2 linked regions of the Homo sapiens genome follow. The protein of the gene in region 1 purifies or fractionates together with the protein of each later gene. This does not show direct contact. Each region holds a gene or a part of one and is shown on either strand. Other genes may lie near its edges.

Region 1 (3,500 bases):
AGCATTTTCAAAATAGGCTCATAAATGCCAACTGATTAAATCCTCCTGAAAAGCCTGTGGAAACAGAGAACATAATTAATATGTTGACAACGAGCACTCCGGCTTGTCTGACTGTCTCCGAGCACTCGAGCAAAACACAGTCTTGGCAGCCTGGCAGGGAAGGAACACACCAGCGCTTTACCAAAGTCCTCAGCATTAAGAAAGTGCCTGGGTTCAACCTACAACATGGGAGAAAATTTTTGCAACCTACTCATCTGACAAAGGGCTAATATCCAGAATCTACAATGAACTCAAACAAATTTACAAGAAAAAAACAAACAACCCCATCAAAAAGTGGGCGAAGGACATGAACAGACACTTCTCAAAAGAAGACATTTATGCAGCCAAAAAACACATGAAAAAATGCTCACCATCACTGGCCATCAGAGAAATGCAAATCAAAACCACTATGAGATATCATCTCACATCAGTTAGAATGGCAATCATTAAAAAGTCAGGAAACAACAGGTGCTGGAGAGGATGTGGAGAAATAGGAACACTTTTACACTGTTGGTGGGACTGTAAACTAGTTCAACCATTGTGGAAGTCAGTGTGGCGATTCCTCAGGGATCTAGAACTAGAAATACCATTTGACCCAGCCATCCCATTACTGGGTATATACCCAAAGGACTAGAAATCATGCTGCTATAAAGACACATGCACACGTATGTTTATTGCGGCATTATTCACAATAGCAAAGACTTGGAACCAACCCAAATGTCCAACAATGATAGACTGGATTAAGAAAATGTGGCACATATACACCATGGAATACTATGCAGCCATAAAAAATGATGAGTTCATGTCCTTTGTAGGGACATGGATGAAACTGGAAATCATCATTCTCAGTAAACTATCACAAGAACAAAAAACCAAACACCGCATATTCTCACTCATAGGTGGGAATTGAACAATGAGATCACATGGACACAGGAAGGGGAATATCACACTCTGGGGACTGTCGAGGAGTAGGGGGAGTGGGGAGGGATAGCATTGGGAGATATACCTAATGCTAGATGACGAGTTAGTGGGTGCAGCACACCAGCATGGCACATGTATACATATGTAACTAACCTGCACAATGTGCACATGTACCCTAAAACTTAAAGTATAATAAAAAAAAAAAAAGTAAAAAAAAAAAGAAAAAAGAAAACAGATTAAAAAAAAAAAAAAAAAAAAGAAAGCCTTCCATACCAAAATTCAAACCCCTCCTTTATCAGACATTGCCCTAGACTACTCAAGCCTAACATAGACTAGTTCCCAAGCTTTACTCCCTGCCCCCATTTATTGCTCCTTTATGCTACAAACATGATTGCAAGAGGGAAAATGTAATTTTTAAAATTCACTTTGGTAAAAGGGATTCCAATGATTTCATTACCACCTTAAACTTTTGTGAAAAAAAAAAACTCATCACTTTAAATTATTAAAGTGTATATTTAACCATTATTGTCATCCAGGTACACTTTCAACAGTTTTGTTTCTATTAAGGCTGTAATTATTTTATAAGGAAACATTAAATATTTACCATAATTAAAGAGAAAAAAAAAAAAAAAAAAAAAGAAAGTGCCTGGGTTTTATGAGAAGCCCAGGCCTTTGGATAACTGAAGTGCTCACCTGAATTTCTGAATACTTCCAAATGTATTTGAGTTTATCAGAGGTCAAAGGACAACAAGAGTGCTTTTCTGTCTGTGTTTTCACACAAAAGCCAGCTACCTGGATTGATTTTGCATTTTTCACCTAGTCACCCAGGCACCATTTGATGAAGGTGGAGAAGGAACAGAAAGCAGAGTCAGGGACGACCAAATTTGCTCTGTTACAGCACAACACAAGGTGTCCGCTTCTCTGTTGACACTGACTATTTAAAAAAATACAGGCCAGGCCGGGCGCGGTGGCTCATGCCTGTAATCCCAGCACTTTGGGAAGCCGAGGCGGGCAGATCACCTGAAGTCAGGAGTTCAAGACCAGCCTGGCCAACATGGTGAAACCCTGTCTCTACTAAAAATTCAAAAACTAGCTGGGCGTGGTGGCGGGCACTTGTAATCCCAGCTACTCCGGAGGCTGAGGCAGGAGAACTGCTTGAATCTGGGAGGCGGAGGGTGCAGTGAGCCGAGATCACGCCACTGCATTCCAGCCTGCACGACAAAGCAAGACTCCGTCTCAAAAAAAATAAATAAAAATAAAATAAAAAATACAGCAGCCTGGCTAAAAGCCAAGATAATTCCACTTAAATGTCCTGATCCGAAGAATATCCTCCTAAGGTTTTGCTGGACTTATTTTTCTATTGAATTGGGCTTTGGTCATTCTAGTTCAGAAACTGTCACAGTCTTGTACAACAATGATGACAGCACTTACTTGGAATGCTCCAGAATATAGCAACGTAAAATTTGTGGGCCGAGCCTCTTATCAGATACATTGGAATAGATGAATGCTATACCTAATCCTGAGAGTTAGTTCTGTGCAGTGCTCCCTAACAAAGCAGCAGGTCAAGGACGTACTTTTATCTACCCTCTTTAAAAAGTACCCCACGAGGCACAGAGGCTCAAACTTGTAATCCTAGCACTTTGGGAGGGCAAGGAGGGAGGATCACTTGAAGCCAGGAGTTCAAGACAAGCCTGGACAACATAGCCAGACCCTGTCTCTATAAAAAAATTTAAAAATTAGCCCAGCTTGGTGGTGTGTTCCTGTGGTCCCAGCTACTTATCAGGATGAGGCAGGAAGATCACTTGAGCCCACGGGTTCAAGGTTGTAGTGAGCTATGATCATGCCACTGCACTCCAGCCTGGGCCACGGAGCAAGACCATCCCTTCAAAAAAAAACCACAAAAAACGGAAAAAATACCCCTGAAAATAACAAAAAGAGAAGTTTTGATTTATAAAGGGCACACGCTAACCACCACTGCAAAGGCATGACTACTGCCTCTGCCACAGGGGGTCCCTGAAGCTCTGGGCCCAATTTTGCACATGTGGGCAGGCTCCACGACCTGTAGAAAAGTCCATTAGGATCCCTGCGTTTCCTTCCCGAATTGAACTATTGTCATTTAAGCTTCTGAGTGGCCAAATGAGTACCTCACATGCATACACGCAATCATCTGGTTTGCTAGCCTCCTTCACAACCCTCTTCTCTCCCCTGCTGTCGGAGGAACAGTGGGGAGGTGGCCTCAGGCAGAGTAAACGGATGCAAGTGACACCTTCTCCACAGTAAATGGCAACTGAACAGTCCCCACAACTGAAACACTGGCAGTGGGATTTATGTGACCATTCGTACACAGGCTAGTGGAGAGACGGGCATGACGGCCCTCTCACCTGAAAAGAAAACAGAGGGCCCCTAGAAAAGCTCACCACAAGGAACATTTTGAGCTACGAAAACAACTCAGAAGCAGTGTGCTCGGAGGAAAGCAGCCTCGCTGGAAATAGGGCTGCATCCCGGTGCAGTAAAATGGGCAGAGGCTCTGGGGAAACGCA
Region 2 (3,500 bases), about 38 Mb from region 1:
GTCGATAACACCACCAATGTCCACATGGTGACACATCTGTGAGTGTTGGTCTCACTGGGGAGAGCGTCATGAGAAGTGGACACTAACAGTTCTTGGGGTTTTTTTTTTCTATCTTTAAACTAGGAATAAGAATGTCTTTCTCTACCCTTTTGCTGGCACAAAAATAAAATATCTATGAAATGAAAACCAAGCATTTTACAAATGCAAACTTATATTAATAGTGTTGACTCAAGAGAAGTTATATATGTGTGTGTGGAAGTGTGTGTGTGTGTTTATGTGTTTGTGTGTGTGTGTGTCTGTATTTAAACTTGCCTCACCATCCTTGTGGAGCTGGCAGGAAACAGGGATTCTATATTCCCACTTTGATTTCCCATTGGATGCAACTGATCCCCAAGATCTGCTTTAACAAGACCAAAATACAAGAGCACTAATGTACAAAGCAATGCAATTTATTTTAAATTGGTTCTGAGGATGGTAAAATTCTTCTGAACATGGAACCAAATTCACTCTGCTTTGACTTTAACCATTAGTCCTAGGTGCACCCTGTGGAATTTGGCAGAAAAGGCCCAATCGCCCTTTAGAGGGTGAACTGAAGCCTGTTCCTGCAATGTTCTAAGGAGTGCCCCTCCACCAGCCATCTGTTCAAGCTCAACATCTGCAGTTGCTCTAGTCATTTCTAAAGTTACCTGGTTCCCAGATTGTTCCTCATACTGGTCACCTTCCAGAATAGTGTGACCTCCTATTTTTTGGACACTGTATTTCTATTGATGGGGCTGGGACCACAGTAGCACTCATGTCACACTGTTGGCCCAGGTAAACTGAGATTTCCAGGTCTCTGATTTTGTAATGGAGGAGCTATTTGTTGTAACTCTTGTTAGAGCTTAAACCTTATTTTATTAAATTTCGTCTTGTTACTTTGAACCCATCTCTGGAATTGCCAAGATCTTTTGGGATCCCATTTCTGTCATCCATCACATTAGATAACCTTTCCTCCCTTGGTTCATCAGCAAATCTTTAAGTGGGGATTATAAATCTTTTCCAAGATTAGGAAAAGACACTTTGATTTGCTAATAGCCAGTCTCATGACATGTCTCATTTTAGTAACTATATTTGAGTATAAATTGTCCGCAGAAACACCATTCATTACTTTCCTAGTTATTCCTCCTGATTCTAACCATTTGCTATTCAACTTTTACACTTGCCACATACAAACATCTACTCAGAGAGGAGCTGAGGAGCCCCCACACTGTCAAATGTGCCACGGTGCTCCTTGCCTAAGGGGAACAAAGCACTCTGACACCATTCACTCACAGAGCATTTGCCAGGGAAGAATGCTGAGAAGGTTCCAGAAAAATAGAATCCAAAAGCCTTCCGAAGCTGGCTGCAAACGCTCCTCATGATTTCTATGCACAAGCAGTTATCATTTATTACCCAGAGTCTGACTAACTTTGTGGAAACTATAAATAAAAGAATAACACTTTTGTCAAAGCGATAAAACTCTTCCTGCAGAATAGCACAAAGCAAAGGTAGCCCGAGGCCAAGTATTATAACAAGTAGGATCGTGGAGCGTGCGTGGGCTCCACAGCCATTTTTGCAAGCTGTGCCCACCAGCCCTGTAAAGTGTCCTAGGCCCTTCCTTCTGAGGCTGGAACAAGGGAACTGGAGTCGCAGGGGTGGGAAATGTAGCGGAGGCATAACAGAATCCATACCTCTTGAGGGCCTAATAAGTTGCATGTGATTACAATCTAACTTTTCTTTTTCCAAGAGCATTTTAAGACTTTAAACACTTTGTTGACTGCTTGGATGGCTGTGTCTTTCCATGAGGTTTAGGCCCTACTGTAATAGCAACAGCCCACAGGTTGCGATGCCCCAGAGCTGGCCCTCACTGGCAGCCGGCAGCAGCACCCTTGTTCCCCTGGGTATTTCTGAACAGCTCTGACAGTGGAGGGGTCTATGGGAGTGGGGCGAGAGGAATGCGAAGGACACTGGCAAGAGTAGGGGGCCTTGTGAGAGAATATGTGCACCCAAAAAGGTCCAGAGACAGAGGGGCTCCCATCAGAGGCTACAAGCCCCAAATGAGATTTGGACTTGAGAAGCTGGAGAAAGGAATGCAAGATGAGCTGTGAACAGGAGGGAAAAGCAAGAGAAGAATGGGTCCCCACTGGTCAGGACTGGCGAAGCCAGAAGCCTGAGCTCACACCTCCTGGCTCATTGTTGATCTTCAGACAGGTCAGGACATCTGATCTGGGAGTGCTTGAAATTAACTAAATGATGAAAAGAGGGAAAATATTATATCTTGGGTGCTCACTGTGTGCCAGGAACTCACTATGTGTCCAAAACTTGCTCCATGCTTGTAAATAGCAGAGCCAGGAGTTGAACCTGGGTCTTTTAACCTTTGAGGTTAAGACTTTTCATACCACATGGCCTGGAAAGACAGAGCATCACAGGATATACTTATTTACAGTAAAACCAGGAGAGTAGACGGACATTGGCCCAAATCTGGGGCAGCTGTAATGAGAGAAGTCCTGGGCTGGGCCAGGTCACATGACTGCAGTCAGTATTGCTGGGAGACAGTCACAGAGCTGTGATGGTAAAGCTTCTGGAAAGGGATTCCACAAGCTCCTCGAGCCGAGTCGATTAAGAAGAATTACCATTCACTTTACCTTCTGGTCTTCCCTCTACTTCTTTGCGGTAAATTATTTTCTGCTGTGACAAAACAGACATTGGGAGGGAAAGAAAATAATTTTAAGAGTGACAAAGTGATTTTTTTCAGGTATGTTTCCCCTTTTTGCATTGTTCTTAAAATTTGAGTTTTAACCAATTGGAATCTAGAGACTTTAAGCTATTCTCATCTAGAGAGAACTGAAATTACCAGCGAAGAGAAAGAGGCCTGAGCTTCTCCAGCATCTCCTCACAGAGGAAGATTGCAAAGGGCTCAGATATTAAACATGTCAGAGACTGTGGACCTGGTGGCAACTCCAATATAGGCTAGCTTTACAGCTACCATTTCATTACGCTTTCATGAACTTGACACCATTTTGCTGCATTACATGGGACACCAGGATGATTGCACGAATCTGGCAGGGAACACTGAAGTCATACTCTGCTAGTTAAAATAAAAATAACGTGTCCAATATCATAGGAGAATTTGGGTATCATGCTAGATGGGAACTAGCCATCTGGAAGTGAGATCATGTCACTAACAGTGCTGATCACCCTGTGTTTAGGAGTCTGGGCTGTCTCTTCAAGGCCCACATCTAACCACCTGCCAAGGAAGTCAAGCTCTGAATGCTGCATTGGAAGGGAGCTCAGATAAAATACCTCTTTGACCTTTTCTAGCTCTGAGATCTGGCCCTGGCTATTTTAAATTGATGTTCCTCTTGGTTTCCCGGTCCCTACATGAAATGTTAAAGTCTGTGGCTTAACAAGTGGCTTGTAAACAGGACAATGATCTCCCTTGGTTTATAATTACTTCCCCCACTTACAGACTTCTCAGTCAA

What was found.
Region 2: the proteins of MTCL1 (region 1) and KATNAL2 purify together in Homo sapiens (tandem affinity purification; one large-scale study listed by IntAct). This does not show direct contact.

What each region holds. Positions count from the first base shown.
Region 1 is NC_000018.10:8,708,556-8,712,055, reverse strand, and holds part of MTCL1 (microtubule cross-linking factor 1), read right to left. Parts: intron 1-3,500. UniProt on the Homo sapiens protein: Microtubule-associated factor involved in the late phase of epithelial polarization and microtubule dynamics regulation.
Region 2 is NC_000018.10:47,053,602-47,057,101, reverse strand, and holds part of KATNAL2 (katanin p60 ATPase-containing subunit A-like 2), read right to left. Parts: intron 2,707-3,500; coding exon 2,664-2,706; exon of another isoform or gene 2,652-2,663; intron 1-2,651.